Homo sapiens: one gene and its partners. The protein of the gene in region 1 interacts with the protein of each later gene in a pairwise test. Each region holds a gene or a part of one and is shown in the gene's direction. Other genes may lie near its edges.

The links.
Region 2: the proteins of SLC6A1 (region 1) and DRD2 interact in a two-hybrid assay, tested with the Homo sapiens proteins (one large-scale study listed by BioGRID and IntAct).
Region 3: the proteins of SLC6A1 (region 1) and HUNK interact in a two-hybrid assay, tested with the Homo sapiens proteins (one large-scale study listed by BioGRID and IntAct).

Annotation. Positions count from the first base shown.
Region 1 is NC_000003.12:11,027,184-11,030,829, forward strand, and holds part of SLC6A1 (sodium- and chloride-dependent GABA transporter 1), read left to right. Parts: intron 1-1,551; coding exon 1,552-1,664; intron 1,665-2,037; coding exon 2,038-2,169; intron 2,170-3,646. UniProt on the Homo sapiens protein: Mediates transport of gamma-aminobutyric acid (GABA) together with sodium and chloride and is responsible for the reuptake of GABA from the synapse. The translocation of GABA, however, may also occur in the reverse direction leading to the release of GABA.
Region 2 is NC_000011.10:113,468,882-113,472,527, reverse strand, and holds part of DRD2 (D(2) dopamine receptor), read left to right. Parts: intron 1-3,646. UniProt on the Homo sapiens protein: Dopamine receptor whose activity is mediated by G proteins which inhibit adenylyl cyclase. Positively regulates postnatal regression of retinal hyaloid vessels via suppression of VEGFR2/KDR activity, downstream of OPN5.
Region 3 is NC_000021.9:31,871,834-31,875,925, forward strand, and holds the start of HUNK (hormonally up-regulated neu tumor-associated kinase), read left to right. Parts: upstream 1-1,186; 5' UTR 1,187-1,841; coding exon 1,842-2,102; intron 2,103-4,092.

The DNA of each region.
Region 1 (3,646 bases):
GCCTGGGAGCGCTACGGGAGACCGGGGCTTATTTCATCCCTTATCTACAACTGTAAAAGACAGACGTCCCCAAAGCGGCCATTTCAGAGGCCTCCCCTTAGGGACGCATTCTCTTTCTCAGGGAAGTTCCTTGCTGAGAAAAAGAATTCAGCGATATTTCTCCTATTTGCTTTTGAAAGAAGAGAAATATGGCTCTGTTCCACCTGGCCCACAGGCAGCCAGACGTTAAGGTTATCTCCCTTGTTCCCTGGACATCACTGTTATCCTGTTTTTTTTCCAAGGTGCCCAGATTTCATATTGTTTAAACAATTTGTGCAGTTAATGCAATCATCACAAGGTCCTGTGGCAACATTCATCCTCAGCTTACAAAGATGATGGGATTAAGATATTAAAGTAAAGACGGGCATAGGAAATCACAAGAGTATTGATTGGGGAAGTGATAAGTGTCCATGAAATCTTCACAATTTATGTTCAGAGATTGCAGTAAAGGCAGGTGTAAGAAATTATAAAAGTATTAATTTGGGGAACTAGTGTCAATGAAATCTTCACAATCTATGTTCTTCTGCCATGGCTTCAGCCGGTCCCTCTGTTTGGGGTCCCTGACCTCCCGCAACACTTTGGCTCAATTCAGACATGTTCATCACCATACTACAAAGACCACTAAATCCATGCTTTTGTCTCAGCTCCAAAAATGTTCTCGCCAAGTGGGCCATGCCCACTCTGCTCACCACACAGTCATCAATGCCACAGAACCCAAGGAAAACCCCAGACAGCCCTTCGCTGCACAGCCAGGCAAGCAGCCAACAGGTGGAACCCACTGTATGCAGGGCAGAGGCCCCTGAGGCTCATGGAGGCCACACGGCTGGTCCCTTGAAGAAGTGGGCTGGTTCCGTGAAAGGAGCATTCTCTGCTCCGGTTCTAATCTCCCCTTCAAGGGCAGCCACCATCTCGTTTCTCTGCAATTCCCCAACCATTCCCCCACCCCCATCCGGAGCCAGACCCAGGGAGGTTACAATCTCTTTCCTTCTCATTCCGAGATTTCCTGATCTCTTAGACACCCCCACCAACTACTCAAACACAATACATGCCAAACAAGGCTCCAAAGCCTTCTCCTCCACCATGCTCCCCATCACAGAAGGGTCCCATGGTCCAGTGCCCAGGGTGGAGACCTCAGCATTGTCCTGGACTCTTCCCTCACCCTCATCCTGCAAACCAGCCAATACCAGCACCTGCCCCTCCATCCCCTACATATCTCTCTATCTGGTTGCCTCTCTGCACCTGCACTATCCTCACTACTGGCCAAGCCATGCCATCCCCCATCGAGATGATGGCCACAGCTCCTCACTGGTCCTCTTGCCTCTGGGCACAATTACTATGGCCCCACATCCCCCACCCTCTTTCTGCACCTGGAAAAAGGGGCTGAAAACACTCACTCAAAAGGTTACTCTGAAGATGAAATGAAATAAGGCTTAGAAAATGGGCAGTGTGCTGGAAAGGCTGTAGGTGATGAGTACCTTTTATTTTTCTTCTTTTTTGCACTTCTCTGTTCAGGCCCCGGGCTGGCGTTCCTGGCATACCCAGAGGCGGTGACCCAGCTGCCTATCTCCCCACTCTGGGCCATCCTCTTCTTCTCCATGCTGTTGATGCTGGGCATTGACAGCCAGGTGAGGGCGCCCCCCCCGCACCCCAGGAGCTCTCCATCCCCAGACTCCTCAGTCCCCGAGTAAACAGGGAGAGGAGGCAACTCTTAGGCTGCCAAGAAGATGACCAAAAATTCCAGGTCCCTAGAATGTTCCACTGCATGAAATTTCAGGAAACAGCTCAGCCACCTTCTCCATTTTCCAGAAGGGGAAACTGATGCCCAGAGGGGAGGGACTCTCCTGAGGTCACAAAGTGAGTCACAGGCAGAATCAGGCTGGACCCTGGGCTCTCCTGGCTCGGTGCTGCTGGGCCTCCCGTCCTTCCTTAGAGGGCCAGGCTTTGGGTGGGTTGGGGCTGGGGCTGCTGCAGGTGGCTGACCTCTGTTCCCACCTGAAGTTCTGCACTGTGGAGGGCTTCATCACAGCCCTGGTGGATGAGTACCCCAGGCTCCTCCGCAACCGCAGAGAGCTCTTCATTGCTGCTGTCTGCATCATCTCCTACCTGATCGGTCTCTCTAACATCACTCAGGTAAGCTCAGTAAGCACCTGGCACTCCCCCAGCACTGCCCAGGGCCATGCCCAGGGCCTCCTCTCCCCTCCTCTGTTGTATCCCACCTTTCCTGCCTTCATTGAGCATCATCTCTGTGCCAAGCTCTGGGCACATAACAGTGAGTCAGATGGGGTCCCTGCCCTCCAGAGGCTCCCAGGCTGGTGGAGACACAAACATTGAGCTAAGACATATAGGACAGAGCTAGAGAATGCAGCACCTAACTGGACTCGGAGCACCAGGGACTGCTTCTTGGAGGAGGGGATGTAGAAATTGAGCTTTGAAAGGCCCACAGAAGGCCTGGCATGGTGGCTCATGTCTATAATCCCAGCACTTTGGGAGGCAGAGGCCGGCGGATCACCTGAAGTCAGGAGTTTGAGACCAGCTTGGCCAATGTGGTGAAAACCCGTCTCTACTTAAAAAAATAAAATAAAGTAAATAAATAATACAAAAATTAGTCAGGCATTGGGGCAGGTGCCTGTAATCCCAGCTACTTGGGAGGCTGAGGTAGGAGAATTGCTTGAACCCGGGAGGCAGAGGTTGCAGTGAGCTGAGATCGCGCCATTGCACTCCAGCCTGGGCAACAAGAGCGAAAAACTCTGTCTCAAAAAAAAAAAAAAAAAAGAAAGAAAGAAAGAAAGACAGAAAAAGAAAAGAAAGGCCCACAGAAATTAGCCAGAAAGTCAAATTGGAGTTGAGCCTTTGAAGTTGACACTGCCCAAAGCTTTCTTTCATTCCCATTTTTCTTTTGTATTGACATGAATGAGAAATGCTCACATAGCTGGTGAATTGTGCAATAAATATAAACGACTCTAGCAACATGAGTTCAGCACTGCGGGTCTGATTTTTATAATCCACAAATCACCCCCACCCCCCCCCCACCAGATCCAAATGTAGTTCTGCTCCAGAGTTAGTATTCATTCATCCCTTCATTCATAGTTGTCAAATACCTACTATGGGCCTGGCATGACCCCAGAAATTTGGCAATTAATGTGGCAGATACTACCATGTCTGCTGTCTTGGAGCTTACATTTTGGTGGACAAGACTGACAGACAAATTAGATGATTTTGGAGAGTGTCAAGTGCCCTGGAGAAAAGAGGACAGCAGCACAGAGAATGGCCAGTAGCACAGGAGGGGCGCTCCCTCAGACAAGGTAGTCAAGGGAGGTCTCTCTCTCCAAGAAAGCGACAGTTGAGCTGAGACTTAAATGATGAGAAAGAGCCAGCCAGAGAAAGATCTGGGGAAAGAGAGCAGAGTAGGTGCAAAAGCCCTGAGGCATTTGAGGGACGAGGGAAGCCAGAGTGGTGGAGGCAGAGGGAGTGAGGCAGTGGGTGGGAGACGAAGAACCAGCCCATGCGGACCTTGCAGGCCAAGACATTTGGGTGGGATGGGATGGGATGGGATGGGATGGGATGGGATTGGATGGCATGGGATTGGATTAGATCTCTCTCTGCTTAT
Region 2 (3,646 bases), on another chromosome or scaffold:
ACAAAGGTGGATTATTTCTGTCTAGAAAATGCAATTATCTTGAGAATGATATAGGAGAATCTGAAATTGAGACAAACGCTTCTGTTCTTTCTTTGATACTATGGGAAACAAATGGGAACTTAGGGTCATTAGAAATATGGCCTCACATACTCCTGAGATTGTCTTGCTGAAGCCGGACTGGTCTGGGGTCACCATTCTCTGAATAAACAAGTATAAGGGGAAAGACGTGGGGACTCTGCCTGGAGAGAATGGTTTCCATCTCCCCTGCAAGTAAAAGTTACATTTTAGTGTTAACAAAAAAGTGTGGCTGTGAAGATAGCACTGTGTGTATGTGTATGTGTTTGTGTGTGTTTGCATACACGTGCATGCACACATATGAGCACATCGCCCAGGAGAGACAGATATGATGAGACTTCCTTGAGCCAATCCTGTGTTGGCACCCACCACTTCTCCCCGCTTTGTGGCTTAATACCTATGAATCTCCAACAGTGAAGGTGCCTCAACACCTAGGAAGAGAGAAGAATCAAGTTGAGGTTTTATAATGCCAGAACCCTAAGTCATATTTGTAATATCTCCCAGAATCAAGTTATATATCAGCAGGCTACAGTTACCTAAGAGTTGAGGTCTTGAAAATAGCTTAGAACAGCAGCCCAGTCATTTGCATTTTCCTGGGATATAGTTTATAGGACTTTAGATTCTTAGGTTATCTTCTTGGGCTCCTCAGAGGTCATGCCAGATGCCCCTGACTCCAAACAGGGAAGCTGTTTCCTTAGTCCAGAAATACAATGGTCTTTCTTCTTTTATTAAAGTTCTCCTAAACAGAACTTTTTCCAATGAATTTTCCAGTTTCTGAACACCAGGACTGGACTCAGCAACTGGAGCTTCTCCATCCTACCAGGTACTCTGCTTAGCAGAGGAGCATCCTGCATATAGGAAACACTCGGAAACCATGGGCAGCAGAAAGGACACAGGTTGATTCAACTTCTCAGCAGGCACCCTCCTTTGTAGGTAGCCTCTTACTTAGCTGAACCCCAGCACCATTTTCCCTCTTCTCACCTCCAGTAAGGCATTTTGTGGCCTTGGAAGGACCTTGGGATTAGGTATAAGCCCTTCTGCTCTCCAGAATATACCATGGAGCCACTAAGGATGCACAAATTGCTTATTTACCAATTTGAGCAGTAGACTAATGTTATCTCTGGCCTTTTAAATTACTCTAATGGTGTTGGAATCTAATATTAATATACTTTTGCCTCTCACCTGTTCCCATGACCAATGTAATTGGAGATTTCTTTCCTCTGTACTTAAATGGATGCAAAACTTTCTTATTTTTTGACAATAGAATCATATTATCTAAATGTACAGGCCTGGAAAATAGCTTGATTATAGTGTCAGCACATGGGGATGGAGGAGTAATAAAACTATAAGACTCAGCCACTTGGTTTTCTTTGATTTGGGTCCAGAGAAAGGAGAGAAATTTGCCCTCAGAATTGCAGATTTTTCTTTTCTTTTTCCTTTCACCTTAATCTGGTAAATGGGTTAAATCAATACCCTTGGCAGCTGGGATGCCCTTGGAAGGCACAGCCTCTTCTCTCCCTAGGATACATGAGAGTGTTTCACTGCAGAGGGGCCAAGGACCCTGGTGGCTCTAGTGTATAGGGAGGAGTCAGAGATGACACACTGGGGTCTGAGGCCTCCCTCTTCCCCTGGATAGAAGAAACTGTGCTGCTGCAGTGCTTTGAACTCAGAAGCCTGGAAACTCCTAGGGGCATTTGGGAGAGTATGGGACAGTGTACAGAGGTGAGAGCAGAGGAGAAGTAGACTCTTAGGAGGCCCTGAAAGAGGCTGATGTTAAATATGCATTGAATATAGGTATCAGCTTAGTGTAGTTTGGGCAATTTTGTCATAATCTGATGTCACCTGTAAGGATTTTTACTTTTTCCAGTAGGAGATGAGGGAATTCTTTGCTGTCTGAAGGGACAGGGAGGGGAAGGAGGGAAAACCTCTGGTTTCCCCTGCAGCCCTCTGGGTAATGTCAGCTTGCTTCCAGACAGAGGGCGGTAAGGGAAGTCAGGCAGACCTGGCTCCCAGGAGCTCCATCAATAGGCCTGCAGTTAGCCTGGGCAGTCCTGCCTTCCAGGAAGCTGTCGCTCAGCACAGAACTGCAGCTGTGGCCCCAACGATAATCCCCTGCAGATGTCTGGGAGCCAAAGGGAGTCCTGGCGCCTGTTCATTTGTTATTGGTCTCCTTCAGAACGTGCCTGCCCTTCTCATTTCCACCCCCTCCTTGTTGTTATTGTTTGGGTTCTAAGTGGCCCAGCAGGAGAAAGACATTAGAAATGAAATTATTTTTGTTACATGCTACATCATTGCCTCCTCTCCTACCTGCTACCCCAGGCAGCACCATCACTAGCAACTCCCAGGAACTCTTGATATGGGAAAGTGGCTTAGTACCAGGCTTCCCTAGAATGAGAAGTGGTCCTGTTCACCAGACCCTCCTTTGCTGGCCTCATCATCATAACGGCCAGCATTTATTGTGCACTTACTGTGTGCAGGGCGCTGTGCTCAGCACTTGACATAGGTTCTTCATTTAAACTCCCAATCCTGCAACAACTCTGTGAAATAGGAACCCTTGTTTTTACATTTTTTGTTTGTTTATTATTTATTTATTTATTTATTATTTTCATTTTTAGAGAGAGGTCTTGCTCTGTCACCCAGGCTGGAGTGCAGTGGTGCAATCATAGCTCACAGCAGCCTTGAACTCCTGGGCTCAAGTGATCCTCCTGCTTCAGCCACCCGAGCAGCTGGGAGTACAGGTGCATGCCAGCATGCCCAACTAATTTTTTAAAGAATTTTTTGTAGATATAGGGCCTTGCTTTGTTGTCCAGTCTGGTCTTGAACTCCTGGCTTCAAACGATCCTCCTGCCTCAGAGTAACCCTTATTATTCCATTTTGCAGAGGAAGAAGCATAGGCTTAGAAAGGTAAGTGGTTTGCACAAGGTCACACGTTTCATGTGTGAGACAAAGATTCAAAACCAGACTGTTTAAGGCTAAAGCAATAGCCCTCTCTGATACGTAAGTGGCATAAAGAACAAGAAAAGGAGGAGAATAGGGATAAGAAGATAATTCTTTAGTGAATGAAAGGGCAGTAATCTTTGTGTATGATACCAGGAAAGTGAAGAGGGAGACAGCAGATGGAGAAGGATGAATAAAATAACTCCTTGGGATTCTTAAATTTGAGAACCAGCGAGGAAGTGTTCTGTACCTGGATCTGGGTCCCTTTGGATGAAATGCACTGGGCGTAAACCTCAGCAAGCAGTGGGAGCAGGAGGGAGGGCGGCAGGAGCAGGAGGGAGGCAGGGTCAACTAAGCCTTCCAACCTGGGGGAGGAGCTGGGAGGAGGTGTAGACGGATGTTTTGTCAAGCTCTTCTGGAACTGTGATGACATTACCTTCTGTCCCACATCTCTTTGAGGTGAACTGAACTGTCCAAAGGATGAAAGCCAGACTTCTGCCAACAATTAGGTCTTTGGGTTTGCTTTCTTATTACCATAGAAGGAAAACTTGTTATATCTCCAAGACTAAGCTTCCACATTTTACAGAAATGTGAGGGCGGGATGGCCTGGGATCCTGGACAGACACAGGAGTGA
Region 3 (4,092 bases), on another chromosome or scaffold:
GAAGTCCCTTCAGCACAGCAAGAAAAACATTTTAAGCTGTATCTTTAATATTGGTAAACGGGAACAATGAGACAGAACAACAGAAAACGCAGTATGTTCCGTCATAATAACTGAGGCTGGTGACTTGTAACAGGTAGGTGGATGAATATAGTAGCGTATTTAAAATTAGATGTATTGAAAGCAGGCATTTCTCTGCGTCCCTCTTCAGATGGGTCAGCGAGACCCCCAGACACTGGATTGATGACAGCTGTTGTTCCCCCACCCCCCACTCCCAATCTCAAAGCATTGCTATGGGTCGATGTCATACTTGTTTACTCAGGAATAAACAATGAAAGGAACTTTGTTAGGACCAAATCCTTCCTTTCAGCTCTGATGTTGCATGATCGGGGTGAAGTTTCCATCAAATGCGGGCACCTCAACAGGTAGCATTTTGTAAATGCCTCCTCCTACCTACCCTCCTCCTTCTCCCTCACAAGATTCTTCATTTTCGGTTTGAGAAGACGTTGGGGATCCTGGGAGAGGGTCCAGTGTCGTCAGGGCAGTTGCAATTGTTTATGCGATGAGCACAGTCACAGCGCTTGCAGAACAAAAGCATCGAAGAGAGGCGAGCGCCGGTCCACCTCCTGCAATCACAGGCATCATTTCAATGGAAGGCAAAGAAGGTGTAAGCTACAAGCAGAGGCAGCAAACGCCCTGGTTCCTACATTGCTGCTGCTACTATTACTGCTGTGGCTGCGCCTCCTCCAACACAGCCAACCAGGCTGCGTGCGAGCCCGGGCAGACGCCTGGCCGCCTCCCCACCCTTTCTTCCAGCCATCCATCTATCCTTCCACCCCCGGTCCAGGGGGCCCTACTGTGTGGCGGACTCAGGGCCGGGCACGCAACCCGACTCACAGTCCACGGAGTTCGAGAGCCTTCCCCCTTCCCCCCGCCCCGGGTGGGTGCGGCCAGTGGGGGATTTCACCGCCGAAAGGTCCAGAAAACCCAAGCCCAGAATCCGGGCAAGAGGCGCAGCCGGAGGCGGCCCGACCTGGGCGGCCCGGGAGCGCGCGCCTCCGAGGCCGCGCAGGTTCTCCCTGTCTGGCGCTCAGGTGGCTTCTCCGTCCACTCCGCCGCTCCCCTCCCCGGGCCCTCCCCTCTCCAGCGAGGGTCGAGTTTGACTGTGGCGCGCGGGGAAGGAGGGGCTACTAGGGATTTGAAAGTGCACGGGCTGCGGAGTGGAGCTCGCATCTGTTCCCGCCGCCCGCGAGCGGATTAAATTTCTGCAAATTCAAACTGAATGGGGCTTTCTTCTGCTGCCTTCCAGAGGGCGCCGGCAGCCCGCCGCGCGCTTCTCTCCGGCGGGAGCGGCCGCCCAGCGCACGGCTAGGAGCGATCGCGGGAGCCCGACCCAAGCCCGTGCGGGCCAGACGGCGGCGGCGAGGCGGAGGCTGCGGAGGCACCCGGGCTCCCGGACCCAGGCACCCGGACCCCGGGACCCAGGCGCCGCCGGACCGCGCCCCACCCCGCGCGCCCGAGCAGGGCGACTGTCATTAGCTTCCTGGACGGGACCCGGGGCGGGATCCTGGTGTCCTGAAAGGGGCCCGGGCGACCCTAAGAGGAAGAACTTTTGGGGGCGGGGTCCCCGGTCCCGCGTCCCCTGGGCAGCCGCTATTGTCTACGCGCCTCGCTGGGCGGCGCGGGGGGCGTGATCGCGGCGGCCCCGGGCTCTGGGTGCGGAGACCCAGGCGGGGCTGGGCCCAGGGCGGCGGCGGGAGAAGCCGGGGAAGCCGAAGAGCCTGGGGAGGAGGAGCTGCGAGCGCGGGAGACGAGCAGGAGCCGCGCGGGCCGCGGCGAGCGCGATGCCGGCGGCGGCGGGGGACGGGCTCCTGGGGGAGCCGGCGGCGCCTGGGGGCGGCGGCGGCGCGGAGGACGCGGCCAGGCCCGCGGCGGCCTGCGAGGGAAGTTTCCTGCCTGCCTGGGTGAGCGGCGTGCCCCGCGAGCGGCTCCGCGACTTCCAGCACCACAAGCGCGTGGGCAACTACCTCATCGGCAGCAGGAAGCTGGGCGAGGGCTCCTTTGCCAAGGTGCGCGAGGGGCTGCACGTGCTGACCGGGGAGAAGGTGAGTCTCCCGGGCGCCGTGGGGCTGGGGCACAGGGGCGGGAGTCGGCGGCCAGGACCCCGCGGGGAGCACTGCACTGGGAGTCCCAGTGTGCAGTCCCGGGCCAAGCGCCTTCCCCCTCCGCCCGGCTTTCCTGTTGGGTTAAAACGCGCGCTCAGCATCTCGCAGCCTTTCCCGAAGGCGGCCTGCGGTCCGCTGCCCGGGGGTTGGGGGCTTGGGAGGGGACGGCCTTGCCCCGGGAAGCGTCCCGCGCGGCCGTTCTGCTCGTGGAAGGGCGCCGCCTGGCGACACTAGCGCGGGGGGCGGGATGGGGCCCCTCTGCCCTTCAGGCCGGCAGGGGCGGCGGATCCGTGGCGAGGCGGGAACCAGGGCTAGAGGAGGTGGGCTCTTATGTCGGGGGGCGGGGGGGGCAGGAAAGCTAACAGCCAGCCTCTGGGGGGAGCTTAGAGTCTGATCCCCGTCCTGGGCTCTCGGAGGAGGTGGGAGAAGGCTGAGATCCTGCATTCCTTCCCACCTGTGGGCTCCGGCAGCTAGGGAATGTTTTTTGGCAGCTAGGGAATTTTTCGTGCTCAGAGGAGGGTTTTTGCCTCCGCCCTCCACTTGTCCATCCCTCAACCTGTGCTCCTCTCTATCCACTCAACCCTCCCACCCCTGCCCCCTCATCACCCACCATTCTCATCCCCGCCATTCTCATCCCCTTCTCTCCGTTCCCCCAGCTCCTCTGTGCCCTCCAGCCTCAGGGTGGGAGCTGCAGTGAAGACCCTGCTACTGGCAGGAACAGAACTACAGATACCTCCCCCCAGAGACTGGGAGATGCCTTCTTATCTTTCTAGAAGAGGGGAAAGGAAAGGGGACCTCCGCGAGACCAAAAGGGGCACCTCTCCAGCCTTGTTGGAAGTTAGATGGTTGTGAACCCTTGCCAGGCGAGGGGCAGGTAAGATGGAAGGTGTAACTTAGAGCTGTGAGAAGAAACCCAAGAGCTTGGTGACTCGCTTTTGAGGCCGGGTCACCCCAGGCTGGAGCTGCCCGAGCTCAGAGCCAATCCAGGCTGGAGCTGTCCCAAGCTCCTGTCATCTCGGGCTCAAGACTGCCCCCAGGCTGGGGGTGGCTCAAACCTGGAGGGGGACCAGCTCCTTTGTGTGGTCCGTGGGTCAGGGAGGCGTCAGCCGCAAGGAGGGAAGGCGGAGTTCACTTCCCAACCGAGCAGGTGGCCTGGGAGCCGAGCCCTCTGCCTTCCGACCTGGGGGCCTCTGCCCAGCCTGGGGCTGCCCTGTGAAACCCCTGGTCACAGGGCCAACCTGCCCTTCCTGCCTGTCTCTAGCCTCACCCCACCTGTAGTTCCCTCCCCACCCCATTTCCCCTCTTTGTCTTGGAGCCTTTTGCCTGTGAATGCAGGTCTCCGTCACCCTTGTCATTTTCCCTGTGTTCCCTACAGCCGTTTTGAGTGAGGCACCGCTTTATTATGGGTATGTGGGGATAGAGTGAGTAGTTTTTAGAAGTGCCTCCTGCCTGAATTCCCATGCAAAAAAGGAGCGTTCAGTATGAACTTGAGTAAGTCTTCAAAGAAAAAGGAAAAACCTCCAAACCTCGTTCTAGTCCGCAGGAGCGAGGCACACTTACACTCCTCGATTCGATTCGATTCGATTCGTAGTGAGCTGTCTGACTTCCACACTGCGGGTCCGTTCAGGGCGCGAGGATGCGGCTAATTAGAGTGAGCTCTCTTCTCCTGGCCCTGTGTAAATTCCTGTTGGCACTGGCGATGGAAGTTTATTTTCATTGGAAACGTATAGGATTCAGGCTGGTTGTGCATATTTCCTCTCTAAACATAACGGAAAGAAGCGAGTCTTTATGCTCACAACGTCATGGCAAACACTGCAAGTACATTCTTCTCGCCTGCCCTGGTGCACAGACTTCTTTTCTGGCTTCCCTCCACCTTGCTGTGTTGTGCTGTGCCTCTGGCTCTGTAGCAGCGCATTTTTGCACCATAAAA